Regions from separate parts of the Homo sapiens genome. Here region 2 is linked to region 1. Evidence: fine-mapped expression QTL. Tissue or cell type: monocytes after LPS. Region 1 holds a variant in brackets; the other region holds the start of a gene. All regions are shown on one strand. Distances are from middle to middle.

Region 1 (14,964 bases):
GTTGCCCAGGGTGGTCTCGAACTCCTGAGCTCCAGTGATCTGCCTGCCTTGGCCTCCCAGAGTGCTGGGATTACAGGCATGTGCCACCATGCCCAGGTGAAATTAATTTTAATAAGATATTTTAGTTAACCCAATATATTAAAAACAACTTATAATTAATAGAAAATTATCAGGTGTCTCACAGTTTTTTGGGTAACTAAGGCCTTTGAGACAGTCTCTATTTGACACTTAGAGCGCACATCAGTTCTGACTTGTCACATTTCAAGGGCTCAGCACACGATAGATGGCACAGCCTTTGTCCCCATTCTAGATCTGCTGGCACAGAGCACATGTCCAGGAGTTGGAAGGATGGCTTAGAAGGATGGATTTAAGGCTCATGTCTTCATCGTGTTGCTTACCCCTCTGAAGCTGCTGAGGCCACTTCCAACAAAGTTTCCAGTAAACTGGGGAAAATAGGAATCGTGCTTCAGTGATGCGTCGGCACAGGGCAGGGGTTGTGTGGCTCCGGAAACTGGATCCCCTGGTTCCAAATCCCAGCTCTGCCCTGTCCTAGCTGTGGGACCCTGGGCAAGGAGTCCTTGTGTGGAAAATGCTGTTTACCCTATCAGCGAGTCATGAGGACTGGATGACTGTGTGTGTAGGGTGGTGGGATGGCGCCCAGCCCATGGTCGGTATTCAGTAAACACTCGGGGGCTTACAAAGGGGCCCTCCTTCAAAATGTACATCACTGTGCAGTTCTGGGACCTGCCAATCTCACTTCTCCACACTGAGGGGCGGCTGGCCAGCTGCACCCAGAGCCAGCTTCCCCTGCTGCAGCCATCAGGACTTGACAAGTGTGCAGGTGTAAACCCGACCCACGCTGAGGAACAAGTTGGCCACCAAAACATTCACTTTGCTTGAACAGTGCCTGTTAGGAGTTGAATTGTGTGTCCCCGTATTCATCTGTTTTATCTGTTGAAGTCCTAACCCCCAGAGCCTCAGAATGGGATGCTATTTGGAGATGGGGTCATTGTGGGTGTCATTTGTTAAGATGAGGTCATACTGGAGTAGGGTGAGTCCCAAATCCAATGTGACCGGTGTCCTTATACGAAGGGGAAATTTAGACACAGACACACGTAGGGAGAAGGCCACGTGAAGGCAGAGTAAGAGAGAGGAGTGTGTCTGGCAGTCACGGAGTGCCAAGGATCACCAGCAATCCGCAGACACTAGGAGAGGCCCGGGCAGATTCACCCTCGAGCCTCTGGAGCCAGCCCTGCTGACACGCTGTTCACAGACTTCCAGCCTCCAAACAAACTGAGAGAATAAACTTCTGTTCTTTTTTTTTTTTTTTTTTCTTTTCTTGAGATGGAGTCTTGCCCTGTTGCCCAGGCTGAAGTGCAGTGGCGCTATCTCGGCTCACTGCAGCCTCCGCCTCCTGAGTTCAAGCGATTCTAGTACCTCAGCCTCCCGAGTGGCTGAGATTACAGGCACATGCCACCAAATCTGGCTAATTCTGTTTTTGTTTTTGTTTTTGTTTTTTTGAGACAGAATGTTGCTCTGTTGCCCAGGTTGGAGAGCAATGCCGCAATCTTGGCTCACTGCAACCTCCGCCTCCCGGGTTCAAGCGATTCTCCTGCCTCGGCCTCCTGAGTAGCTGGAATTACAGGCACCCACCACCACGCCTGGCTAATTTTTATATTTCAGTAGAGACGGTATTTCACCATGTTGGCCAGGCTGGTCTCGAACTCCTGATCTCAGGTGATCCACCTGCGTTGGCCTCCCAAAGTGTTGGGATTACAGACATGAGCCACTGCGCCCGGCCTTCTACTCCTTTTTAGCTACTTGGCCATGGCAGCGCTAGGGAAGTCAGACGGTGCCCCTTTGCTGTCAGAACGTGCAGGGCCACTCGTGTTTTCTTTAGGATTTTCAGGGCCTCGGAGTGACGTTGCTTTGGACCACCCTTCCTTGGTTTAAAGGACAGCTTTCACTGAAGTCACCGAGAGGTGGAAGGCAGGGGTGGCATTCTCGTCTCTGGGCATCTTTCCTGGCTGATCACTATCTTGGCCCCTTGATGACACGATGCTTCTCAAAGTATGCTCAGAGGAACCCCAGGAGGTCCCTGAGACCCTTTTGGTTAGGAGGGGTGACTGTGAGTTCCTCTCTTCTCCCGTAACATGTCTCTGAGGTCAGGGATTCAGTACGTACTTTAATACTTCCATATATATTGATGCCACGTTAAGATGATGACATTTTAGATAGATTGGATTAAACAAAATATCTTATTAACATTAATTCCACCCTTTTTTTTTTTTTTTTTTTTTTGCCTTTTTTGCTGTGAGTACTTGAAAATTTTCAGTGACAAACATGGCTCACATTTGTGGCTGGTGTTCTGTTCCTCTGAATTCAAAACCAGATTTGGGGGCCAGGTCTCCTCTAAATAGCTAGATAGGAAAGAGACTGGCAAACATTCAAAGCACTGCCACTGTTCTCAGAGTGGTTTGTTCTGCTTTAGAAACAGTTGCTTTTTGTGAAAAATATTTTGTGTTAACCTATTGTCTTGGTCAGTTCAGGCTGCTATAACAAAATTCCATAGACTGTGTGGCTTATCAACAACAGACTTTTTTTTTTTTTTTTTTTTTTTTGAGATGGAGTCTCTCTCTGTTGCCCAGGCTGGAGTGCAGTGGCGCAACCTCAGCCTCCCGGGTTCCAGTGATTCTCCTGCCTCAGCCTCCTGAGTAGCTGGGATTACAGGCATGCACCACTATGCCCGGCTAATTTTGTATTTTTTTTAATAGAGACAAGGTTTCGCCATATTGGTCAGGCTGGTCTCGAACTCCTGACTTCAGATGATCTGCCCACCTTGGCCTCCCAAAGAGCTGGGATTACAGGCATGAGCCACCGTGCCCGGCCTAACAGACATTTTCATTTCTTACAGTTTGGAGGCAGGAAGTCCAAAATGAAGGCACTGGCAGATGCAGGCTGTGGGGAGAGCCCTTTCTTGTAGACGATGCCTCACTGTGTCTCACATGAAGGAACAAGGCGGTTCTCTGGGACCTCTTTATAAGGGCACTAAACCCATTCATGGGGGCTCCACCCCTACGACCTGATCACCTCCCCAGGACCCCACCTCCTAAGACCATCACTTTTGGGGTTAGGATTTCAACATAGGAATTTTGTGGGGGACACAAATACTCAAAGCCTAGCATCTGTAATGGGTTGTTATTTGAAAATGAGTTAATGATAGCAATGTTTTTAAATTATTAACAATGGCTGGACACAGTGGCTCATCTGGTAATCCCAGCACTTTGGGAGGTTGAGGCAGATGGATTGCTTAAGCCCAGGAGTTTGAGACCATCCTTGGCAACACAGTGAGACCCTGTATCTACAAAAAATCAAAACATTAGCTTGGTGGTGCATGCTTGTAGTCTCAGCTACTTGGGAGGCTGAGGTGAGAGGATCGCTTGAGCCCAGGAGGTAGAGGTTGCAATGAGCTAAGATCATGCTACTGAAGTCTAGCCTGGGCTACAGAGCAAGACTCTGTCTCAAATAAATAAATAAATAAATAATAAAATTTAAAAGATAATTAACAACTAATTAAAAACTACCTAATTTTCTGCTATGGAAAATATATCAGTTAGGTAGAACCCACATAAACGAAAGCTCTGGGGACGCTTCAATAATACTGAAGAGTGCAAACGGTCTTGAGACTGAGAGGTCTGGGAAACACTGGTTTAGCCTCCAGTCTGCAGGGGACAGGTGTGAAAGTCAGCTCCCAAGTCAACCACATTTAGTCAAAATGCTCACGATGCCTCAGGAAGGCACAGTGTAGCAAACACACTCTGGCTTCTGGGGAGTCCTGGTGACCCCAAGCCTTTAGTCCCAGAGATGGCTGCTGTTTACAGTGTTGGACTCTAGACACTGGCCAGCTGTGCGGAGTCTGATCATTTTGGGGAACTATGAGATGTTCACGCCGTAGGTGTCGTTATTGACCGGAGGAGCTCCAGGGTTGAGGCTTCCCATCTCAGGCCTGCTCTGGATTTGCGCTTGCCCACTCCAGATCGTTGTGTCACACTTTGGTCCTCTTTGGCTGGGCGTGGTGCCTCACACCTATAATCCCAGCACTTAGGGAAGCCAAGGCAGGCAGGTTGCTTGAGCTCAGGAGTTCGAGACCAGCCTGGGCAACATAGCGAGATCCTATCTGTATTTGCTGGTTTCCACACTGCTATAAGGAACTACCTGAGGCTGTGTAATTTATAAATAAAAGAGATTTAATTGACTCACAGTTCCACATGGCTGGGGAGGCCTCAGGAAACTTGTAATCATGGCGGAAGGCAAAGGGGAAGCAAGGCACGTCTTACGTGGTGGCAGGAGAGAGGAAGCAAGAGCGAGGGGTAAACTGCCAAACACTTTTAAACCATCAGATCTCGTGAGACTCACTCACTTTCATGAGAATAGCATGGAGGAAACCACCTCCACGATCCAATCACCTCCTACCAGGTCCCTCCCTGGACACGTGGGGATTACAATTTGAAATTAGATTTGGGTGAGAACACAGAACCAAACCACTTCACTGTCTCTACAAAAAAATACAAAAATTAGCCAGCTGTGGTGGTGCATGCCTATAGTCCTAGCTACTCGGGAGTCTGAGGTGGGAGGATCGCTTGAGCCCAAAAGGTCAAGGCTGCAGTGAGCCGAGATCACACCATCACACTCCAGCCTGGGTGACAGAAAAAGACCCTGTCTTAAAAAAAAAAAAAAAAAAAAAAGACCACAGATTCTTGGGCCCACCCAGGACCTACTGAATCAGATGTCCTGGGGGTGGGGCCCAGCAACCTGTTTTCCTAAGCCCTCCAGGGGATTCCTGGAGGAATCACACAAGTTTGAGAACTGCTTGTGTGAGAAGGCTTAGGATATAACTCTCCTTGAACTCATTAAACAACACTGTCAGGAAACAAACAATTGCAGCATGTGGGACCTCCTGCAAGAAAACCATCCTGGAAAAATTAGACTTCAGAATTTCAGTGTTTCTAAAATGTCATGGGTCTCTTCTCAATTAATGGAGACTAAAGTGATGGCAAATGCTGAACGTGAACTGTCGCTGGGTCCTGGTGAGGGTTGGGAGGAAACAGCTATTCCTGGATAACTGAGAAATTCAAGTGATGTTATATGGAATTGTTAATTTATTATTTATTTATTTATTTATTTATTTTTTGAGACAGAGCCTCACTGTGTCTCAGGTTGGAGTGCAGTGGCGCCATTGGCTCACTGCAACCTCTGCCTCCCTGGGTTCAAGCGATTCTCGTGCCTCAGCCTCCCAGGTAGCTTGGATTACAGGTGTGCGCCACCACGCCCAGCTAATTTTTATATTTTTAGTAGAGATGGGGTTTCACCATGTTGGCCAGGCTGGTCTCAAACTCCTGATCTCAGGTGATCCACCCACCTTGGCCTCCCAAATGCTGGCATGAGCCACCGTGCCCAGCCTGGAATTGTTAATATTCTTAGAATGATGATAGTATCATGGTTTTGAGGTGAATGATGTCTTTATTCTTAGATGTATGATGAAGTATGATGTGTACATCTTTCAAATGGGTTAATCTAAAAAGTATGTAAATAGAGAATGCAACATTCAGAATTTTTAATAATTGTTCAGTCTAGTTGGTTTCAAAAGGAATATTCTACTGTTCTTTTAACTTTTTTGTTTGAATTTCTTCAAGTCAGGCACACAGAAGATGCTACTCTTACATTTCACTGCATTCTTGAGATGGAACTTCGTGTGTGGGTACCAGTTAGGATCAGGTTTGGCTGAAACAGAAATCCAACATAACATTGGCTTAACCAAGATGGACACCTATTTCCCTCTTATATGAAAGTTCTCAGGGAGGTGGTGAGGCGGGTTTGATGGCTCTGATGCATGTGGTGCTCTGGACCAAAGCACCTTCCATTTTATTGTTCCTCCATGAGTGCCTTCCAAAATGGCTGCTCCAGTTCCAGCCATTGTATCCATGTTCCAGCAGGCAGAAGAGGTAAAGGACACATTCCTGCTACTTTTAGGGAACACATGGCCAAAGCTTAGTTATGTAGCTGCAAGAGAGGCTAGGAAATGCTTTAATCCTAGGTAGTTGTGTGCCCAGCCTGAAGGTGGGCATTTGTTACTATGGAAATTGAAGGACAATTTGCAGGCTATGCCCCACTTCCAGAGGTGTTTTAGTAAAAGGTGAAAGTTGTCTTTTGAGACAAAGTCTTACTCTGTCACACAGGCTGGAGTGCAGTGGCACATTATGGCTCACTGCAGCCTCTACCTCCCAGCCTCAAGTGATCCTCCCACCTCAGCCTCCTGAGTAGCTGGGACTACAGGTGTGTGCTACCACACCTGTCTAATTTTTTTAAAATTTGTGTTCTCTAGAGATTGGGTCTGTATTAGTCTATTTTCACACTGCTATCAAAACATACCCGAGGCCAGGCGCAGTGGCTCACACTTGTAATCCCAGCACTTTGGGAGGCTGAGGAGGTGGATCACTTGAGGACACTAGTTCAAGACCAGCCTGGCCAACATGGTGAAACCTCATCTCTACTAAAAATACAAAAATCAGCTGGGTGTGGTGGCATGTGCCTATAATCCCAGCTACTTGGGAGACTGAGGCAGGAGAATTGCTTGAACCTGGGATGCAGAGGTTGCAACGAGCCAAGATTGTGCCACTGCACTCCAACCTCAAAAACACAAACAAAAAAACCAAAAAACCTGAGACTAGGTAATGCATAAATAAAAGAGGTTTAATTGACTCACAGTTCTGCGTGGCTCAGGAAACTTATAATCATGGCAGAAGGCAAAGGAGAAGCAAGCACCTTCTTCACAAGGCAGCAGGAGAGAAAGAGAGAGCAAAGGGGGCAGCTGCCAAACACTTAAACCATCAGATCTCATGAAACCCCCCCCCCTCCACTGTCACAAGAACAGCATGGGGAAACCACCCCCATGATCCAATCACCCCCCACGAGGTTCCTTCCTCCACACGTGAGGATTATAATTCAAGATGAGATTTGTGTGGGAGCACAGAGCCAGTCCATATCAGGGTCTCACTATGTTGCCCAGGCTAAAGGTGAAAGATGTATATGATTTGAAGAGAAACCAGTATATGGAGAGGTTTTTAAAACTCAACATGGCAGGTCGTCTTAAAGGGCTTCCCTGGCTGGGCATGGTGGCTCATGCCTGTAATCCCAGCACTTTGGGAGGCCGAGGCAGGTGGATCACCTGAGGTCAGGAGTTCGAGACCAGCCTGATTAACATGGAGAAACCCCGTCTCTACTAAAGATACAAAATTAGCCGGGTGTGGTGGCGCATGCCTGTAATCCCAGCTACCCCGGAGGCTGAGACAGGAGAATTGCTTGAACCCAGGAGGCGGAGGTTGTGGTGAGCCGAGATCACACCATTGCACTCCAGCCTGGGCAACAGAGCAAGACTCCATCTCAAAAAAAAGAGGCTTCCCTGTGTGTCCTCATGGAGCAAAGTGTGACTATTCACAGAGGAACTTCCTTGAGTTCCTTTGGTTGTTGCAAAGGCCTTTTAAGCCCCACAGGCCAGCTCAACTATCCAATTCTAGCTTGTTAAGAAACCCCTGGCCCCTGCGTAACGAGCCCTGTTCCTCTTTTCTGTCCCGCAGTCTCCAACCTGTCCCAGTATTTCAGCCCAGCCTCGGTGTCCAGCAGCCCGGCCCGCGCGCTCCTGCTGGTCGGCGTCGTCCTCCTGGCCTACTGGTTCTTGTCCCTGACCCTGGGCTTCACTTTCAGCGTCCTGCACGTGGTGTTCGGCCGCTTCTTCTGGATCGTGCGGGTCGTCCTGTTTTCCATGTCCTGCGTGTACATCCTGCACAAGTACGAGGGCGAGCCGGAGAACGCGGTGCTGCCGCTGTGCTTCGTGGTGGCCGTCTACTTCATGACCGGGCCCATGGGCTTCTACTGGCGAAGCAGTCCCAGCGGCCCCAGCAACCCCAGCAACCCCAGCGTGGAGGAGAAGCTGGAGCACCTGGAGAAGCAGGTCAGACTGCTCAACATCCGTCTCAACCGGGTGCTCGAGAGCCTGGACCGCTCCAAGGACAAGTGAAGGTCAGCCGGCCGGGCGGGTCCACAGTTACCAGCACGCTGTCTCAGAAAACGAAAACGGAGGAAAAAAACCCCAAACCCCAAACAATCTTAATAAACACGACTGAGCAAGAAAGTGGCGCTGTGTA[G/A]GGCTATTTCCACCCACCCGGCAGCTCTTAGGACACATTCCCAGAAGAGCGGAAAGATCATTGACGTGGAACTACACACGAAGTGTAATTAGTGGGGGAAAAAATATTTTTTAAACAAAGGATATAACCATATTTAGTTGTACAGTAAGAGAAATTTATCTGTGCATAGAGCATAAAGTTAATTTTTTCAAGCATTTAAATACATCTTTTGTAAGGTTTTTTAATAAAGGCAGATTGAGTCAAGTTTATTAAAACTTTACATGGAGGGGAAGAATATGCTAATTTGACATTTGAGAAAAGTTTAAATGCGAGCGTTTGTTTTCACAGCTTAGGGATTGGTGGGTGAGGTCTGTGTGCGTTATTTTCATGTTCCCAAACTGTGAGCTTTATTTCATGTTATTTTTGGTGGATGTTGACTTAGTTCATGAATGTTGTCACTTCTAAATGTGGACAGTTGGGCTGCAGGATGCAACTCAACCTCTTTTGGATCCTAGAGACCCCTGCCAAGCCCCCATCAGTCCTATTTTTAAATGAAGACATCGCCATTTCTAGAAGACCTGAGATTTTCTTCCCTCTGTGCTTCGATGTATTTTAACCTCAACATTTTGAAACGGAAAATGCAAGGAGGGGCCAAGAAATGTCCTGGGGATTTGATGCCAGGAAGTACCTGGTAAGGATTGGAGATTGCTCCAGAATCTACTGCATGTCCCAATTTGCAGTTTGCTCACTAGGGCTATATACAAAAGCTATACCCTTGAGGGTTTTTTTTTTTTTCTTTTGATTTCCTCAGGACCTTAGAGGGAAAACAAACAGTAGCAGCTAATATTCTCAAGTATATTGCTGCTTAGAAAGATCCTCAGGAACAATTAGCAGCAATAAGCAAGCCTTTGAAAAGATCTGAATTCTTTTTCCTGAAATATTTACGATACACAGGTGCTTTTTATCTGAAATCTGTTGTGTCCTCCTTTTAGGCAGTCTCTGTGGGCAGAGAGTGGGACTTGCGAGGTGGACAGCTGTGGGGATCCTGGGCAAGGGAGTTTCAGAAGGTGTGGCTCAGGGGCTGGTAGAAACCCCCTTTTGTTAGGACTTGTTTTTTAAAAAAGAAAGCCCTAGGCCAGGCGCAGTGGCTGATGCCTGTAATCCCAGCGCTTTGGGAGGCCGAGGAGTATGGATCACCTGAGGTCAGGAGTTCAAGACCAGCCTGGCCAACATGGTGAAACCCCCGTCTCTACTAAAAATACAAAAATTAGTCAGGCATGGTGGTGGGTGCCTGTAGTCCAGCTACTCAGGAGGCTGAGGCAGGAGAATTGCTTGAACCTGGGAGGTGGAGGTTGCGGTGAGCCGAGATCACGCCACTGCACTCCAGCCTAGGCAACAGAGCAAGACTTCATCTTAAAAAAAAAAAAAAAAGCCCAGCATTTTGCAGCTTTGAAGCTGCTGGGGATCACGACTGTCTCTGTGGCCCTTACCTGGCCACAGATGTACCCTGGCAACCCGCTCACAGTGCCCTGCGTGCAGGTTTATAGATAACCCCTGCCAGACCTGCTACAACCAAGACCTTATGGTCCAGGTCTCAGTTTGGAGAAGATTTAGCTGTCTACCACTTCTTGTGTAGTGTTCCTGTGAAGTTTTATTTTTGGTTGCAAGTATCTGGAAAACAGATGCAGATGTTTTTGTGGATGTTGTTGAGACTTTTGAGACTTCTGTTTCTAAGGTACACATGATGGGACCCAAACTCTCCTGGAGAGTTCCATTCACTTCCTGAAACGTGCACCTGTTTCAGGTGCATGTTTATTCAGTGTGCATGGATATTTAAGATTTGCTGGAGCAGGCTGGGCAGGGTGGCTCACCCCTATAATCCCAACACTTTGGGAGGCCAAGGCAGGTGGATCACCTGAGGTCAGGAGTTTGAGACCAGCCCGGCCAACAGAGTGAAACCCCGTCTCTACTAAAAATACAAAAATTAGCCAGGCCTGGTGGTGGGCGCCTGTGATCCCAGCTACTTGGGAGGCTGAGGCTGGAGAATCGCTTGAACATGGGAGGCGGAGGTTGCAGTCAGCTGAGATCATACCACCACACTCTAGCCTCAGCAACAGAGTGAGACTCCGTCTCAAAAAAAATTATTTGCTGGATCGAATCTTTTTTTTTTTGAGATGGAGTCTCACTGTCAACCAGGCTGGAGTGCAGTGGCACCATCTCGGCTCACTGCAAGCTCCGCCTCCTGGGTTCACGCCATTCTCCTACCTCAGCCTCCCAAGTAGCCGGGACTACAGGCGCCCACCATCATGCCCGGCTAATTTTTTATATTTTTAGTAGAGACGGGGTTTCACCGTGTTAGCCAGGATGGTCTCGATCTCCTGACCTCGTGATCCGCCCGCCTCGGCCTCCCAAAGTGCTGGGATTACAGGCGTGAGCCACCGCGCTGGGCCTAGATCAAATCTTTATCCATGCACATTGGAACACAGGATTACTGGGTTGAAATCATTCTAGTTTTGTCATTTAGATACTTGTAGATGAATCTATTTTAGCACAAGGTATAAATAACTCGGGAGGTCATCTCTATCTTCTTTCCTTTTGTGCATTTGGCTATACCACGTTTAGGTACTAAAACAGCTTTGCTTATGTTGGCCAGGGGAAAACATGGCATTCTGTGCGCAAAGCTAATGATCGCCAGCCCTGCCTTGGCCCCTCCCTTGTTTATGGTCATTGTAAGATGCCCGCATGTTAAGGCTTAAGCTGTCACTGGGCTGGGTGTAATACCCGCTTCATTCCTCCTCCCACCCTCTTACCCGAAACATGAAGGGCACTGTGCTCTATTGAGATCTCGATAAGATCATCATTTTAACTTGTATTCAACTGAGGGAGGTAACATGATATCTGGGTGCTGGTGGATTGAGACCTCAAGCATCAATTCAAAATTGCTGTCGAAAATATGCACTATTTTTTTTTTCCACTCTGGCTAAGTGTAGGCTCTGAAGCCAGTTTTATAGCTTGATACATTCTGGTGAAAGATGTCTTCATTTTTAATGAAAGAACCTACAGTTAGTAGGTGTCACCTCAGGGTAGAAATTCTGATAGAAATTCTGATTATTTGAAACTCTGATAGAAATCCTAGATGCTAGATTTGAAGAAAACCTGGGTTTTATTGCATAGATTTCACCTTTTCTGGGGCACATCTTACCCCAAAATAATTGGGGATTTTTTTGTTCCTTCTCCATTCCATGGAACCTTGTAGGGTGTTGGGATTGGGCCTCCCCTCGCCACCCGCCACATGTCTTTGTTTTTTTCTCTCTTTTGTATGTGGAAAAATGTATTTTTGTACCATATCTCATACCTGGAGAGAAACCTTTTTTCTATCTTCAGGGCTGTAGAATATATTAGCGTAACACTTCACTGAATGTGACGTAAAAGCATTCTGATGAAAACTGGTTCTGTTATAATTAAGACTCAGTGTTTAAAATATCTTAATCAGTGTTAATTTCCCAGTGTTTCAGTATCACAGTAAATACTTGTTTTACTGAGAACAGAAAATAATCCAGAAAAGGAAAAGGACCAGCCCTCTCTAGATTGCTGGAATTGTATGGATGTGTTGGGGTTGGTTTAGTGATCTCTTCCTTGACACCCTAGCAAAGATGCTTTTGTGGAGTGCAAACCTTTCATAAATATACTTTCCAGGCTGGGTGCAGTGGCTCAAGCTTGTAATCCCAGCACTTTGGGAGGCCAAGGCGGGTGGATCACTTGCGGTCGGGAGTTCGAGACCAGCCTGGCCAACATAGTGAAATCCCGTCTCTACCAAAAAATACAAAAAAAAAAAAAAAAAAAAAAATAGCCAGGTGTGGTGGTGGGTTCCTGTAGTCCCAGCTACTCAGGAGGCTGAGGTGGGAGAATTGTATGAACCTGGGAGGCAGAGGTTGCAGTGAACTGAGATCACACCACTGTACTCCAGTTGAGGCGACAGAGTGAGACCCAGTCTCAAAAAAAAAAAAAAGTGTGTGTGTGTGTATATATATGTATATATATATACACACACACACACTTTCCAATACCAGTCGGCATTACCCGCCCTTTGGTTTCTTTTGCTTTGGATTTCAGCCCCCATATCATTTCTGGTAACAGAGCACAGCAATAGAATTTCTGGGAAGCAGACCTTGTGAATCGTGCCTGTGTCTTAATTCACAAAGGGTAAGTGAATGCCGTTGAAAGGTGTTTCATACACTTACCCCAGAAATGAGAGCCTGTCTCATGCAGGAGTCGGGAGGCAGCGATGTCAGGGAACTGGGACTATGTCTTTATGACTGTGATGGTGGTAACCAAGTGGGGTGGTCCCCTCTGGGGAGCTGAGTAAGAACGCAAAGGTTTGGGTCAGTGATTAGGAAGACTATAATATGACTTTGTGCATGCCCGGGAGGGCTGCCTTGTAGAGAGGATGTGAGCAGCTTAGTCGCTCATCTGGCCCTGTGATTCAGGCTTATGGAGCGTTAAGAATAACAGCTGTCAAATGGCCTAGACATGGTTAATGCAATTTGTTGCTAGTGGAAATCCTGAATTGCTTCCTTTCTGTGATCACTGCTACTTCTTAAGATGCTTTTGATGAATGTCATCTGCCTTACAAGTTGACACCTGATAACTTCTCCCTGATGGGTTTCCGAACTGGCTGACTTAACCAAAAAGCCAGCTCTTGCCATCTATCTTGCATTAAAAGGAATTCCTGAGGCTCCTAAGGGGTCAGCTGCCCCACTCCTGACTTTTTTATTTTTAATGGTCTATACCTTCTGCAACATTTTTGTTTATGGCCATTTGAATAGTTGGACTTTGACTCCTCACTTGTGAATAATAGGAATATATTTTGCAGAATCTAACATAATACCCTTAAAATTCATACTGGACAACCATCAGTGTGATGTATAGTATCTGGTGTAAACAAATTTTATTCAGCATATTAAATTATTCTGTGTTTTGCTTTTCCTTGATATGTAGGAGGTGCACCAGTACCAGTTTTTCTCTTGTGGTGGCTTAAAACGCTGATTGCCATTTGCATTGTCTACTGAAAAGCTGTGGCAGCGAGTGGTATTATTGACCATGTGTTCTCATGTCTTTTTGCAGATTTAAAGGTTTTATTGTAGTGTCCATTTAATATCTGCATGTGTGTTTAATCTCTGAATACCATGTAATTAAACTGATTAACTTGTGATGGTGATGGTGATTAGCACACACTAAAAACCCAATGAAGCAATTGTCTCCCTCTTCTTAACTGGAAATCACACTTGTGAGGTATGGTATCCATTATCAACAGTGGATTCATGATTGACTTCATATTTTGTGTATCTGGTTATAAATTTTGTATAGCATTTAATTTGGCACTTAATATAAATCCATTTGATTTGAATAGTGTGTGTGTGTACATGGTGTGTGTGTGTGTGTGCACTTTAGTTTCGTGAGCCTTGGGAAACTGATTCTACAAATATCTTATATAGAGATAAATGTATCAGGCATTTTTTTGCAAAGCGATATATACATTCCTCTTATTTATTAAATCACTGGCTTTGGTGTTATGTAGAGATATTTGTAGATCTCAGAACAGAATTAAAATATTGTGAAAATTACAGCTTAATAAATGTTTATTGTAATTTTGTTGTATGGACTTTTAAAATATATCTCATCACTTCTAACCAAACATTTGTGGAGTTTCCCCAGTTTTGATGTGTAACCAGGATTCTATGGTTCTATTCCTCGATCTGAGAAGAGTCATAAAACCTTGAATTTATGTATTCAGTTGGAGGTAAGGTTGCAAGATAAAATACAGGATGCCCAGTTAAATTTGAATTTCAGATAAACAACCAGTAGTGTTTTAGTATAGTGTAGAAGTGTTGGTTGCTTATCTGAAATTCAAATGTAAGCAAGTTTCCTGTATTTTTAGTTGCCAAATCTGACAGTCCTAGCACAGTGATGCGTGCCTCTCCACCCCACCCCGCATACCCATGCTGCTTTCTCAGGTCCTAACAATCCTTTTCTTTCTATTTTTTTTTTTTTTTTTTTTTTTTTTTTGAGATGGACTCTCACCCAGGCTGGAGTGCAGTGGCGAGATCTCAGCTCACTGCTGCCTCCATCTCCTGGGCTCAAGCGAGCATGTCCGGCCAATTTTTGTATTTTTAGTAGAGATGGGGTTTCACCATGTTGGCCAGGCTGGTCTCCAACTCCTGACCTCAGTGATCCGCCCGTTTCGGCCTCCCAAAGTGCTGGGATAACAGGCGTGAGCCATCATGCCCAGCCTTAAAAATCCTATTCTTAGTAAACATTTAGGAGCAAATGTAACAGGAGTATAATTTACCTTGACCAAGTATAATTACTCTTAACCCAAGAGTACTGCTCCTGCTTTTTACGCAAAGACAATCTCACATAGGTCGATAAGGGGACAATTTGAGGCTAGTTATTGTGAAGTTATCTGGGGGCAGCCTGGGTGGCCTGTCACTGGGAAAGCAGGCAGGTGAGCGGGGGCGGTGAGGCACTGGAGGACGTGCAGTAGGTAGTAATGACAGTAACAGCGTGGGGTGAGAAGGAAACCAGAATGAGGAGGGGCAGCTCATTTGAATAAAGTCAATACCTGCTATTAAAATAATCATTTTGGCCGGGTGAGGTGGCTCATGCCTGTAATCCCAGCACTTTGGGAGGCCGAGGCGGGCGGATCACGAGGTCAAGAGATCTAGACCATCCTGGCTAACATGGTGAAACCCCGTCTCTACTAAGAATGCAATTAGCCGGGCGT
Region 2 (14,964 bases), 31 kb before region 1:
CAGCCTGGCCTATGTGGCGAAACCCTGTCTCTACTAAAAATACAAAAATTAGCCAGGTGTGGTGGTGGGTGCCTGCAATCCCAGCTATTTGGGAGGCTGAGACAGGAGAATCTCTTGAAACTGGGAGGTGGAGGTTGCAGTGAGCCGAGATCTTGCCACTGCACTCCAGCCTGGGCGACAGGGTGAGACTCCATCTCAAAAAAAAGAAAACCCCCCAAAAAATACTATGATTTTCTCTTTTTGTTTTTTTGAGACGGTGTCTCACTTTGTCCCCCAGACTAGAGTGCAGTGGCGCAATCTCAGCTCACTTCAACCTCCGCCTCCCAGGTTCCAGCAATTCTCCCGCCTCAGCCTCCCAAGTAGCTGGGATTACAGGCATGTACCACCACGCCCCAGCTAATTTTTGTATTTTTAGTAGAGACGGGGTTTTACCATCTTAGCCAGGCGGTCTCGAACTCCTGACCCCCAAGTGAGCCACCCGCCTCAGCCTCCCAAAGTGTTGGGATTACAGGCGTGAGCCACTGCACCCAGCCTGATGTTCTCCTAAGAGTGTACGGTGGGGCCGGGCGCGGTGGCGCACGCCTGCAATCCCAGCACTTTGGGAAAATCACCTGAGGCCAGGAGTTGGGGACCAGCCTGGCCAACATGGCAAAATCCCGTCTCTACAAAAAATACAAAAACTAGCCAGGTGTGATGGCATGCACCTATAATCCCAGCTACACAGGAGGCTGAGGCACGAGAACTGCTTGAACCCGGGAGGTGGAGGTTGCAGTGAGCAGAGATCACGCCACTGCACTCCAGCCTAGGCGACAGAGCAAGGCTCCATCTCAAATAAATAAATAAATAAAAGAAGGTAATCTGAGTCATGTTCTTATGAGATTCCTCTGGCCCCTGAGAAAGGCAGGGATACATGGAAATGTCCTGTTCTGATGTGAGAAACAACTTTCCCCAAATCTCTGGGTCTGAGAGACCTCAGCCCCTCTGCTCAGGTGGTCCAGTTCCAAGTGTCAGCCCAGTGTCTACGGCTGTCTTTGAGGTGCCATCCTGAATTGTCACTGCCATCATAACGGTTGTCACCTGTCCTGGGACACACCCCACCTCTGTAACCTTTCTTTACTTTTCAAAGCAACATATTTTCCCAAATTACCATCTCCAAAACTCTGATAGGAGGTAAGACGGCTACTACAGGTTAAATATCCCTTTCCAGAAATGCTAGGAACCAGACCTGTTTTAGCTTTAGGAACATCTGTATTCTATTCACTGGTTGAGCATCCCTAATCTAAAAATTTGAAATCTGGAATGCTCCAATGAGCATTTCCTTAAGTGTCATGTTGACACTCAAAAACTTTTGAATTTTGGAGTATTTTGGATTAAGGCTGCTCAACGTGTGCTACTGGTCCCATTCTGCAGATGTGAAAACGAAGGCACAGAGATGTTAGGGGATCTGCCTCAACTCCCAGCCTGTCTGTGGAACTTTTTTTTTTTTTTTTTTTTTTTTGAGATGGAGTCTCGCTCTCTCACCCAGGCTAGAGTACAGTGGTGCGATCTTGGCTCACTGCAACCTCCGTATCCTGGGTTCAAGCCATTCTCCTGCCTCAGCCTCCCAAGTAGCTGGGACTACAGGTGCCCACCACCACGCCTCCTCTGCTCTAAATGCTCCCATGGCTGCCCTCTCCCGTAGAGAAAAAGCCCCAGTCCTCGCCAAGACTGCAGTCCAGGCCCGACCTGCCCTGGCCCCCTGTTTTTTCTCTCATCTCCAGGCAGCCACTCAGGTCTCCTTCAGATCTTGACTCTAACAGAGTGATGTCTTCTCCAGCAACTCTATGGGATGCTGCAACCCACCCAATGGCCTCTTCTGTTTTATCTGCTCACTATAGCCGCATAAATTTCTATATGTTTATTCTTTGCCTGTCTCCTCCTATACAGCAGGTAAACTCAGGGATTTTCTAAAAATCTCCCTTTCTGCTATGTCTCCAGTGCCTAGAATAGTGCCTGGCATGTAATAAGGGCTACTCCTAAAAAGGGGTCTGAGAGAAATGTCAGCCAGCCTGGAGCTGAGCAGACAAGACTGGGCTGAAAATACACATTTGGGGGTCGCTGGAGATTATAAAGAGATTATAATCGAAGTCATGGGAAGGGATGGAACTACTCCTGTTTTTTTTGCCAAATTCTCCATGTTACTATTTGAGGGCGAGAGAAATCCCGGGTATTCCATATACACTGTTAAAACTAGGCTGTCACTAAGCCCCTCTCCTTTGGATCATCTGGAATGGGGGGACCCATTCCCCCATTCCAGATGATCCATCCCACCCCTCTGGGATCCCCACCCGAGAGTCCTGAAGGCAGGGCACAGGCCGCCCTGGGAAATCTCCGAAATCCAGCCCCGGTCCGGGGATGTCTTACCCTCCAGTTCCAGCTGCACGGGGGGCGGCTCGGGGGGGCCCTTCGAGGGTCCGGGGCCCGCCTGCTGGCGCCCCTTGATGTTGTAGCGCCGGCGCAGCTTCCCCATGGCGACTAGGCCAGGGTGGGCGCTCCAGCGGCCGGACCAGCAGAGCAATCCGAAACCCAGCCCACGTGGGTTCCCAGACCACCAACTCCGGCCGTGAGACTTCCGGGTTGTGTTATCGCGAGAACTGTAACTGACTTTGCCGCTGAGGGGCGGGGTTGCAAGAGAAACCCAGCGAAGAGGAGAGGCGGAGCCGGGCCGGGCAGGGGGCGGGACTATTTAGAGAAGTAGGCGGGGCCTGAGGTCCCAGCGGAGGCCGGAGTTTAAGTCCTGGGCTGTTCTCGCTTGGGGTAGTCTGGGTTTAAATATGAATTATATCTACTGATACTAATTTGGCTTCTTGGGAGTGGAAGTGTTTTGCCACCTTTTAAAATATACCCCGCCCCCAGTACTCCAAACTTCTTCCCCCCAACCCTGGTTTGCGCATCTGTATTTTCTGATATTCCTACAAGAAACGTATTAGTCGTGTACTTTTAAAAAGGCACCAAATATTTCCATCACAGGGATAGATGGAAGATCTAAAAGGAGGCCTCTACGGGCGCGGTGGCTCACGCCTGTAATCCCAGCACTTTTGGAGGCCGAGGCGGGCGGATCACGAGGTCAGGATTTCAAGACCAGCCTGGCCAAGATGGTGAAACCCCCGTCTCTACCAAAAATACAAAAAAAATTTAGCTAGGCCTGGTGGCAGGCGTCTGTAATCCCAGCTACTTGGGAGGCTGAGGCAGAGAATTGATTGAACCCGGGAGGTGGACGTTGCAGTGAGCCGAGACTGCACCACTGCACTTCAGCCTGGGCAACAGAGCTAGACTCTGTCTCAAAAAAAAAAAAATAAAGTTGTCTATTACATAACTTTAAATTCCCATTACCGCATCACATTGTAACACACTGGGAAACAATGCATTATTATTATTATTGAGACAAGGTCTGGCTTTGTTGCCCAGGCTGGAGTGTAGTGGAGCAATCTCGGCTCACTGCAACCTCTGCCTCCCGGGTTTAAACGATTCTCCTGCCTCAGCCTTCCGAGTAGCTGGGACTACAGGTGCCCGCCACCACCCCCAGCTAGTTTTTGTATTTTAGTAGAGACGGAGTTTCACCATGTTGGCCAGGCTGGTCTCAAACTCCTGACCTCGTGATCTGCCTGCCTGGGCCTCCCAAAGTGCTGGGATTACAGGCATGAGCCACCGCGCCCGACTTTTTTTTTTTTTTTTTTAAGAGATGAGATCTCGCCCTGTGGGCCAGGCCAGAGTGCAGTGGTGCAATCACCACTCGCTGCAGCCTTGACCTGTCCTCCCACCTCAGCCTCCTGAGTAGTTATGACTACAGGCACACACCACCACGACGGGCTAATTTTTCTATTTTTTTGTAGAGATGGTGTCTCCCTATGTTGCTTAGACTGGTCTCAAAATTCTGGGCTCAAGGGATCCGTTTGTCTCGGCCTCCCAAAGTGCCGGAATTACAGGCATAAGCCACTGTGAAGGCCTTAATGAATGACGTTTAAAAAAATCATAATTAGCGTATCAAATCTATGGGGTTTTTTGTTTGTTTGCTTGTTTTTGTTTTTTTGAGACAGAACTCTCCCTCTGACGCCCAGGCTGGAGTGTAGTGGAGCAGTCTCGGCTCACTGCAACCTCCACCTCTCGGGTTCAAGCGATTCTCCTGTCTCAGCCTTCCAAGTAGCTGGGATTACAGGCACCCACCAAGATGCCCATCTAATTTTTGTATTTTTAGTAGAGATGGGGTCTCACCATGTTGGCCAGGATGGTCTCAAACTCCTGACATCAAGTGATCGGCCCACCTTGGCCTCTCAAAATGATGAGATTACGGGCCTGAGCCACTGCACCCAGGCTCAAATCTGTGTTTTTATGGATTTTGTTGCTCAGGATGATAGTGATCTAAAGTTTCTTCTTTAAATATGTTTATTTAAATAAATTAAAAGTTTAAGAAACGTTTAAAAAATGTTAAGTAGGTAGTAGTACACTTGCCTATATTTCCTTCTAAAATATAATATATCAGTGAATTACCTTCCAGAAGGTATAGACCATTCTAGACAGCAAGAAGAAGGCAGATACATAACAGCATGGATGGATCTCACAAATATAAAGTTGAACAAAAGCTGGGCGTGGTGGCTCACGCCTGTAATTCCAGCACTTTGGGAGGCCAAGGCAGGCGGATCACCTGAGGTCAGGAGTTTGAGACCAGCCTGGCCAACATGGCGAAACCTGTCTCCACTAAAAATACAAACATTAGCCGGGTGTGGTGGCGCGTGCCTATAGTCCCAGCTACACGGAAGGCTGAGGCAGGAGAATCGCTTGAACCCCGGAGGCGGAGGTTGCAGTGAGCCGAGATCATGCCACTGCACTCCAGCCTGGGCAACAGAGCAAGACTCCGTCTCAAAAAATAAAAAATAAATAAAAAAAAAAGTTGAACAAAAGAAGCCAACCCCCAGAGTACTGTGTGGTTCATTTACATAAACTTCAAACACAGGCAAATGAATCCCCTAAATTTTAAGAGGAACATAGTGAATGGGAGGGGACAAAGGGAGGCTTCGTGGGGGAACTGGTAATGTTTCGTTTCTTGATTTGGGTGCTGGTTACCTTGGGTATTCAGTTTGTGAAAATTCATAAAAATTTATATGATTGTGTATTTTTCTGTATGTTATACCTTAATTAAAAAGTTTATTATTATTATTATTATTATCATTTTTTATAGAGATAGGTTTCACTATGTTGGCCAGGCTGGCCTCGAACTCCTGTGTTCAAGCAATCCTCCTGCCTTGGCCTCCCAAAACAAGCTTGTGCCACTACACCTGGCGTAAAAAAAGGTTTTTGTTTTGTTTTGTTTTGTTTTTGGGACGGAGTTTCACTCTTGTTGCCCAGGCTGGAGTGCAGTGGCTTAGTCTCGGCTCACTGCAACCTCCGCCTCCCAGGTTTAGGCGGTTGTCCTGCCTCAGCCTCCCGAGTAGCTGGGATCACAAGCAGGCACCACCATAACTGGCTCATTTTGGATTTTTTTTTTTTTTTTTTTTTTTTTTTGAGACGGAGTCTCGCTCTGTCGCCCAGGCTGGAGTGCAGTGGCACGATCTCGGCTCACTGCAACTTCCGCCTCCCGGGTTCACGCCATTCTTCTGCCTCAGGCTCTGAGTAGCTGGGACTACGGCGCCCGCCGCCACGCCCGGCTATTGTATTTTTAGTAGAGACGGGGTTTCACTGTGTTAGCCAGGATGGTCTCGATCTCCTGACCTCGTGATCCGCCCGCCTCGGCCTCCCAAATTGCTGACCTTGTGATCCGCCCGCCTCGGCCTCCCAAAGTGCTGGGATTACAGGCGTGAGCCACGGCGCCTGGCCTCATTTTGTATTTTTAGTAGAGACGGAGGGATTTCTCCATGTTGGTCAAGCTGGTCTCGAACTCCCGACCTCAGGTCACCCGCCTCAGCCTCCCAAAGTGCTGGAATCACAGGCGTTAACCACCGCACCCGACCTACAAAAAAGTTTTTAAAAAGATAAACAATACAGGAAAAAATGTGCAAAGGATATGAATAGGTAATTCACAGAGAAGTAATTCAAATGGCCAATAAATCTATGAAAATCTTACTAGGAATCCAGAAAATGTAAATTCAAAAATAAGAGCATTTTGTATTCTTTGGATTGGCAAAAATTGAGTTTTATTTTCTTGGTTGTCTAAAAAAAATGTTGGTTAGACTTGATTTGTTTGATTTAGGATGCAAACAGGGTCCTTGCATTGCATGGGTTATTATGGCTCTTAAGTCTTTAAAACCAATTATCCTCCTCTTCGCTCACCTTTTATACCAATTATTTATTGAACAAACTGGGTCGTTTGTTTGGTAGAATGCCCCACATGCTGGAGTTGGTTGGTTGCTTCTGCTGCTTCTAAGTTTTCCTTATCTGCCATATTTCCTGTAAACTGTAGGTTTGATCTAGAGGCCCCATCAGGTTCATGCTCAACTTGTCTTGGCAAGAATCCATCGCAGGTGGCGCTGGTACTTCCTGGCACTAAGATCGATTGGCGGGACCGGGACTTCGCGGCTTAGCCCCTCCATTTTCAAGTTCCCCGCCAAACCCTCCCCTCTTGGTTGTACCCATTTCTGATGATCATCGCGTGAATCCATCATTCTATTGAGGGGTGCCAAATAATTTTCGGATTCTCTCATTCATCCTCATGTATTAGCTGGACTTTGTAAAAGAAAGTCCCTCCCCAACTATTTTGGGGCTCTGAAATACAGTTCATTCAGGAAGGGCAGGAGGATGCCTGATGCTTTCTTGTTATTTAAAATTTTCAGGATGAATGAGCTGATGCCCACGAGGGCGAATTTTGGGGTACCATTATAATACATTCAGGGAGATTACATATATGTCTATTTCATGTTTTTCAATCAGTTGCAGTCACTTTCCTGGTTGAAGCTGTTGCAAGTTTTACAGGCACGGGTTGCTTTTCCACGGATAAGTTAAAAAAGAGAATTTTTTTTTAAATGATGAGAAGCCGCACCGGGTCGGGGCAGGCTTCCGGGAGGCGGGCGCGGGGCCCCGGGGCCGGGTCGCGTTGGTCCCGCGCCGGGGGCGGGGCGCGGCGTGGGCTGGGCCGTGCGCCTTTGCGCGCGGGGCGGGGCAGGTGGCGCAGCAGCGGCGGCGGCGGCTGTGGGTAAAGGCGCGGCGCGCGGCCCCCGAGCGCGCCAACCTTGCCCTAGCCGGAGCCCGCTGCGGCCCAGCGCACGGCCCTCACCCCGCATCGCGACCCCGCGCCCCGCCGGCCGAGCATGGGCGCGCGCGCCTCAGGCGGGCCCCTGGCCCGGGCCGGGCTCCTGCTGCTGCTGCTGCTGCTGCTGCTGCTCGGGCTGCTGGCCCCGGGCGCGCAGGGGGCGCGGGGCCGCGGCGGCGCGGAGAAGAACAGCTACCGCCGCACGGTCAACACCTTCTCCCAGAGCGTCAGCAGCCTGTTCGGCGAGGACAACGTGCGCGCCGCTCAGAAGGTGGGCGCCGGGCCCGCGCCCGCGGTCACCTTGCCCCGGTCGCCACGCACCTGGCTACCGGGGCCGACCTGGGAGGAGCGCGGCCTCCGGGGCTGCCCGCCCGGCCAGCGCGCGGGAAGAGGGGGTCCGGCCTGCGCCTCGGGGCCTGCCGCCTGCGGCCCCCGCCGGGCCTGACCAGTGCGGGTCTGGGCGGCCGGGCCTCGGGGCGCCCTCTCCTCTGCGCCGCGCTTCTCCTTGGACCTTGCCTCCGCGGTCGGCGCAGCCAGAGTCTCTCCCGGCTGCGCTGACGCCTGCCGCGCGTCTCATTCATTCATTCACCGCGTTTGAATGGCTCCTACTGTGAGCCAGGCAGCACACTGGCGCTCTCGGTCCCCACGCGGCTGCGCCCTCCCCAGCTACCCCGGGTTTGTCCTAGCCTCGCATCCCGACCCACTTCCCCTGGGACCTTCTGCCCCACTCCTCCTCCTGCTTTGAAGATACTTGGAGTTGTTTTTACTTTACAGGAAAAGAAGGGAGCAATGCGATTTGCTCGGTGGCTTTGGGAAACCGAGCACCTACTGTGTGCGGGGCCTTTCGCGTGGAGCCTTTTGTTTAGTTTGGGGAGGTCCCGGATCCTGCAGCCTCCTGGGAAGGGTGTTGAGTCCCAGGAGGATCGCAGGGGGTTTTCCCCAATTCCTGCTCTCTGGAGCTAGGTGCGATAGGGGTGCCATTCCGGGCCGAAGTCCGCCGACTAGCTCTTGAGAAGGAGGAAGTTACTGGGGACAGTTGTGTGTGGTATTGCGGTTCCTTTGCTGTTCCCTGGGGAGGAGGGGGCTCTTGCTTGCCGCCAGCCTTCCTGGGGTTTTGGAGTCAGAGAAGTTTGGGTTCAAGTTGGAGCTCTACCAGTTGGATGACTTTGGGGAAGTGACTTCACTTCTTTGAGCTTGTTTCTTTATTTGTTAAATGGGGATAGTAATCATTCCCCTTCATTGCGAGGTTGTAATTATGACTAGTTGGTACCTTCCTGGCCCAGAATCATGGCTAAAAAGTTAAAGTTTTCTGCTCATTGAGAGGGAGTGGGGAATAGAAGGGAATATGAAGGCCGAAATCAGATTGACTGCATGTTCTTACTGGATAACATGAAAGGTTAATTTGTTAGGAAAACAGTAAGTTTTGACCTCCCTCTCCTGTGGGCAGGGGCACCTCTTGCACAGGTGGGTCTGTGTCTTCATACATGTAGGGGAGAGAACGCTTTGTAGGTGGCCAAAGAGGGGCAAGGAAGCAGGGCTGAACGCCTGAATGTGAAAAGGTTGCCCTGGAGTCTGGCGCGGGAAAGGATCAGGGGTGTGAGTGCAGGGAGTCTCACTTACTTCCTCTTGATGCCGTTTCGGAGCTATTTGAAGGCAGAAATCATTTGTTTTAGAGCAAAAATAAGCCTGTCTTTTTCACGCAGGGTGACCACAGGATCCCCATGTCTCAACTGACGGTGGTTCCATGTGACAATCTAAGGCCAACAAACATGAAATACGAGTGGTTATTTAAGACTTTTACTTAAATAAGACAATCTGTATTCTGGCAGAGCATCTCCGAATCTGGGGGTCAGAGCTCTTCCTGGGCTAAACCGGGGTTTGTGCCTTTAATAGAGATACTAATGATTACTAAGTGCTTTTGTAGATAGAATAATCTTATGTAATCCTTAGAATGACCCTGTGCAGTAGGTACTGTTACTGTTCCCATTTGACAGATGAGGAAACTGAGACACAGAGCAGTGAAGTGGCTGGTTTCAGGTCAGATGAGTGGCAGAGCCAGGATGTGAACCTAGGCAGAGTGGACATGGAGCCCACATTAGTATCTCTCGCCTGTTTTCCTGCTTCATGACCCCTTCCCTGTTCCCCGAGTCAGTACAGCATCCAGAGGCTGACCTGACTTCTTTCCTTTTTGTTTTTTTGAGACGGAGGTCTGGCTCTGTTGCTCAGGCTGGAGTGCAGTGGAGTGATCTCGTCTCACTACAACCTCCACCTCCCAGGTTCAAGCGATCTTCCCCACTCACCCTCCCAAGTAGTTGGGATTACAGGTGTCCACCAGCATGCCTGGCTAAGTTTTGTATTTTTAGTAGAAAAGAGGTTTCACCATGTTGACCAGTCTGGTCTCAAACTCCTGACCTCAAGTGATCCTCCCGCCTCGGCCTTCCAAAGTGCTGGGATTACAGGTGTGAGCCATTGCACCTGGCCTGACTTATTTTATTTCCTGCTGAGTGTAGCCCACACTGGCCAGGCTTGGGGATATTGTTTTGTTAATTTTATGGGTTTTTTTTTAAATTTAATTAATTAATTTATTTTTTGAGACAGACTCTTACTCTGTCACCCAGGCTGGAGTGCGTTGGCACGATCTTGGCTCACGGCAACGTCTGCCTCCTGGGCAAGCAATTCTCCTGCCTCAGCCTCCTGAGTAGCCGGGATTACAAGTGAGTAGCCGGGATTACAAGTGAGCACCACCACATCCGGCTAATTTTTTATGTTTTTGGTAGAGATGAGGTTTCATCATGTTGGCCAGGCTGGTCTCAAACTCCTGACCTCAAGTGATCTGCCGACCTCAGCCTTCCAAAAGTGCTGGGATTACAGGCGTAAGCCACCGTGCCCAGCCTGTTTTGTGAATTTTAAATAAAGGAAAACTGGGTCTGCCAGCAACTGTAGTTTTCAGCATGCCTGGGTTTACGAATTAGAGCCAAACCTGCTTTGTGAAGTTTAATGGTATTTAAAAAAACACCCCATAGTCTTTTTTTTTTTTTTTTTCCGAGATGGAGTATTGCTTTGTCGCCCAGGCTGGAATGCAGTGGTTCAGTCTTGGCTCATGGCAACCTCTGCCGCCCAGGTTCAAACAATTCTCCTGCCTCAGCCCCCTGAGTAGCTGGGATTACAGGCGTGTGTGCCACCATGCCTGGCTAATTTTTGTATTTTTAGTAGAGATGGGGTTTCACCATGTTGGCCAGGCTGGTTTCGAACTCCTGACCTCGTAATCCGCCCTCCTCAGCCTCCCAAAGTGCTATGATTAGAGGCTTGAGCCACCGTGCCCGGCCTCCCATATTCTAATCTAGGACTTGTCTGAAATACACCTATGACCATCCTGTTTGGAGCATGGGAACAGACATGAGTTTGAATCCTAGCTGTTTCTCACTCGCTCTGTGACCCTGAGCCAGTTGCTTTACTTCTCTTTTTTTTTTGCTTTACTTCTCTTTTTTTTTTTTTTTTTTTGAGATGCAGTCTCGCTTCTTCTCCCAGGCTGGAGTGCAATGGCGAGCTCTCGGCTTACTGCAACCTCCGCCTCCCGGATTCACGAAATTCTCCTGCTTCAGCCTCCCTAGTAGCTGGGGTTACAGGCAGATGCCACCACGACCAGCTAATTTTTGTATTTTTAGTAGAGACAGGGTTTCACTGTGTTGGCCAGGCTGGTCTCGATCTCATGACTTCAGGTGATCTGCCTGCCTCGGCCTCCCAAAGTGCCGGATTTACAGACGTGAACCACCGTGCACCACCCAGTTGCTTTACTTATCTGTGTCCCATTTGTTCAGAGGAGATAAATTGGGGAATTAAAGGAGATTGGTTGGGCTGCACAATGCCAGGGACTGAATAAGCATTTAGTAAATGGTAGAATATTTCTATATGAAGGGAATTTGTCTGGTAGGAGGTAATAGACTTGTTAATTCCTTTAAAAATTATTAAGTGATGCCCTGGCATGGTGGCTCACACCTGTAATCCCAGCACTTAGGGAGGCCAAGGTGGGCAGCTCATCTGAAGTCAGGAGCTCGAGACCAGCCTGGTCAACATGGCGAAACCCTGTCTCTACTAAAAATACAAAAATTAGGCCAGGTGTGGTGGCTCACGCCTGTAATCCTAGCACTTTGGGAGGCCAAGGTGGATGGATCACCTGAGGTCAGGAGTTCAAGACCAGCCTGACCAACATGGTGAAACCCTGTCTCTACCAAATACAAAAAATTAGCCAGGCGTGGTGATGCATGCCTGTAATCCCAGCTACTTGGGAGCCTGAGGCAGGAGAATCGCTTGAACCCGGGAGGCGGCCGTTGCAGTGAGCCAAGATTGCACCGTTGCGCGCGCCAGCCTGGGCAACGAGTGAAACTCCGTCTCAAAAAAAAAAAAAAAAAATTAGCTGGGCGTGGTGGTGCACGACTGTAATCCCAGCTACTTGGGAGGCTGAGGCAGGAGAATAGATTGAGCCCGGGAGGCTGACGTTGCGGTGAGGTTGAGTCGCCCCACTGCACTCAAGCCGGGGGAACAGAGACTCCGTCTCAAAAAAAATTATTAAGCAACTTATACACATGTGTTCATAGCAACACTTTTTACAATAGCTAAAAAGTGGAAATGTCCCAAATGTCTTATCAGCTGATGAAGGGATAAAATGTGATGTGTCTGTATAATGAAATATGATTCAGCCATAAAAAGGAATGAAGTATTGCTATATGCTACAACTTGGACGAACCTTGAATAAATGAGAGAAGCCAGTCACGAAAGGGCACACATTATATGATTCCATTTACAGCATATGAAATATCTGGAATAGGAAGATCCGTAGAGACAGAAAGCAGATGGGTGGTTGCCAGGGGCTGGGGGAGGGAGCAATGGGGGAATTACTGCTTAATTGATCTAGGGTTTCCTTTTGGGGTGATGACAGATTGTGGAACTAGATAATAATGGTTGCATGATATTGTGAACGTGCTCATGCCACTGAATTGTACACTTTAAAATGGTTAAAATGGCCAACTTTATGTGTATATGACTACAGTTTTTTAAAAAAATTGGCCTGGTGCAGTGGCTCACATCTGTAATCCCACCACTTTGGGAGGCCTAGGTGGGAGGATTGCTTGAGCCCAGGAGTTTGAGACCAGCCTGGGCAACATAGTGAGACCCCATCTCTACGAAAAACCAAAACCTTTGGCTAGGCATGGTGGCGCACACCTGTGGTCCCAGCTACTTGGGAGGTTGCATAGGGAGGATCGCTTGATCCTGGGAGGTTGAGACTACAGTGAGCTGTGATCACACCACTGTACTCCAGCCTCAGGGACAGCACAAAACTCTTTGTCTCCAAAAAAAACAAACAAATGAAAAATTTCAAGCACCTACTGTATGTGGAGAAAATGATTCCTCTCAGGCAGAATATAGCTGGACTGATGTGGTGGAAACATCCTGAATGCCAGGTCGAGAAACTAGTACTTTTTTCCCTTGCTCCTTGGTCGTAGTTGCATGGAATACAATTTCATGTAGTTCTGAAGGTTAAGAAACTAACTCCACTTCCCACTACCGACCCGTCTACCACCCCCTTCCCCGAAGCAGCCAGATATTCTGAACATGTATAAATATATGGATCTATAGATCTGCTCCCTATTGTTGGTTTTTGTTTATTTTGCACTATGCGCACTGTTTTGTATTTTTATTTTATTTTTCCCTGAAACAGAGTCTCCCTCTGTCGCCCAGGCTGGAGTGCAGTAGCTCAATCTTGGCTCACTGCAGTCTCTACCTCCCGGGCTCAAATGATCCTCCTGCATCAGCCTCTCAAGTAGCTGGGATTACAGGTCTGCACCGCCATGCCCTGCTAAGTTTTTTATTTTTTATTTTTATTTATTTATTTATTTATTTTTCTTGAGACGGAGTCTCCCTCTGTCGCCCAGGCTGGAGTGCAGTGGCGCAATTTCGGCTCACTGCAAGCTCCACCTCCTGGGTTCATGCCATTCTTCTGCTTCAGCCTCCCAAGTGGCTGGGACTACAGGCGCCTGCCACCATGCCCAGCTAATTTTTTTGTGTGTTTTTAGTAGAGACGGGGTTTCACTGTGTTCGCCAGGATGGTCTCGATTTCCTGACCTCGTGATCCGCCCGCCTCGGCCTCCCAAAGTGCTGGGATTACAGGTGTGAGACACCCGACCCAGCCTCATTAAACTTTTTGGCTTTATTATGTATGAGACAGATGGTCTTTTCATTTATTCAGAATCCATCGATATGTTCTGGGAACTGCCTTTTGGTTTTTCTTTTTTTTTTTTTTTTTTGCCGTTCTATTGAGCTGTTGGGTTCTTTTGTTTTTGCTTTTTTTTTTTTTTTGTAAAGAGGTTTGCATTTTTTGCTGTTTGCAAGAAAGTATTTTGAGCAAAATAACTTTGACACTTTCCAGTCCTTTTTCCCCTACCAACATTTTAACAGCTTTTTTGAGGTGTAATTGCACTACACCTCAATAGACTGTGCGTATTTAAAGTGTACAGGTTGACACCTTTTGACATACACACTTGTGAAAAATTACCACAGTTAAGATAAAGTTTCATATGATTTTTTTTTTTTTTTTTTTTTTTGAGAGGGAGTCTCGCTCTGCCACCCAGGCTGGAGTGCAGTGGCGCAATCTCGGCTCACTGCAAGCTCTGCCTCCCGGGTTCACACCTTTCCCCTGCCTCAGCCTCCCGAGTAGCTGGGACTACAGACGCCCACCACCACGCCCGGCTAATTTTTTGTATTTTTAGTAGAGACGGGGTTTCACCATGTTAGCCAGGATGGTCTCGATCTCCTGACCTCATGATTGCCTGCCTCGGCCTCCCAAAGTGCTGGGATTACAGGCGTGAGCCACCACGCCCAGCCTGTTTCCTATAATTTTTTATGTTGATAATTTTTCAAAGTACTAAAATGCTGAAAGAACAGAACAAGGAATAGCTGCAAACATCTCCCCTAAAGTCACCAGTTCTTACATTTCCCCTCAAACTTTTTTCTCTGCAAACACATCCGATAGACACATACACACATGCACACACATTTATTTTTATTTTTTGGCAGGATCATTTGAAAGTTAGTTGCAGACGTCTTAATACTTTTTCCTACAGAACCACAATACCATTGTCTCAGCCAAGAAACTTAAATATAGTACAGTATTTTGTAACAGATAGTCCATATTCAAATTGTCTTTATAGCTCATAAAAAATCCAACACCCAGTCAAGGACTGCTCATGCATTTAGTGTTCATGTCTCTAGTCTGTCAGAGTTTCCTCACTTTTGGTGGAGGAAGGGACTTAATTATGAATTTTTTTTTATTTTTATTTTTTTTTGAGACGGAGTCTTGCTCTGTCACCCAGGCTGGAGTGCAGTGGCGCGATCTCGGCCCACTGCAAGCTCCACCTCCTGTGTTCACGCCATTCTCCTGCCTCAGCCTCCCAAATAGCTGGGACCAAGGGTGCCCGCCATCACGCCCGGCTAATTTTTTTTGTATTTTTAGTAGAGATGGGGTTTCACCGTGTTAGCCAGGATAGTCTGGATCTCCTGACCTCGTGATCTGCCCGGCTCGGCCTCCCAAAGTGCTGGGATTACAGGCATGAGCCACCGCACCCGGCCCCAATTATGCATTTTTTTCTTTTAGACAAGCTCTCACTCTGTAGCCCAGAATGGAGTGCAGTGGCGCAGTCTCGGCTCGGTGCAACCTCTGCCTCCTGGGTTCAAGCGATCCTCCCACCTTA

Direction of the effects. Alleles are on the strand shown, and positions count from the first base shown. SD is a standard deviation of normalised expression in the study named.
As copies of A replace G in region 1, the expression in monocytes after LPS of the gene that starts at base 7,132 in region 2 goes up (moderate effect, 0.64 SD a copy in Fairfax 2014).

The links.
Region 2: BRI3BP starts here. The variant in region 1 is fine-mapped to the expression of BRI3BP in monocytes after LPS (Fairfax 2014, PIP 0.95). The same link has a PIP of 0.9 or more in monocytes.

What each region holds. Positions count from the first base shown.
Region 1 is chr12:125,017,357-125,032,320 of GRCh38, forward strand. It overlaps BRI3BP (BRI3 binding protein), which reads left to right. Exons shown (of 3, transcript NM_080626.6): 3 at 7,635-13,875. The coding sequence ends at 8,074. It overlaps THRIL (TNF and HNRNPL related immunoregulatory long non-coding RNA), which reads right to left and starts at 10,067. Exons shown (of 1, transcript NR_110375.1): 1 at 8,087-10,067. The variant G/A (reference allele first, on the strand shown) is at 8,202.
Region 2 is chr12:124,986,514-125,001,477 of GRCh38, forward strand. BRI3BP (BRI3 binding protein) reads left to right here and starts at 7,132. Exons shown (of 3, transcript NM_080626.6): 1 at 7,132-7,490. The coding sequence starts at 7,278. DHX37 (DEAH-box helicase 37) reads right to left here and starts at 2,618. Exons shown (of 27, transcript NM_032656.4): 1 at 2,404-2,618. The coding sequence starts at 2,509. RefSeq lists enhancers at 538-1,081, 5,702-6,202, 7,922-8,011, 9,192-9,331 and silencers at 6,962-7,281, 7,302-7,351, 7,452-7,501, 7,512-7,761, 7,772-7,831 and 1 more.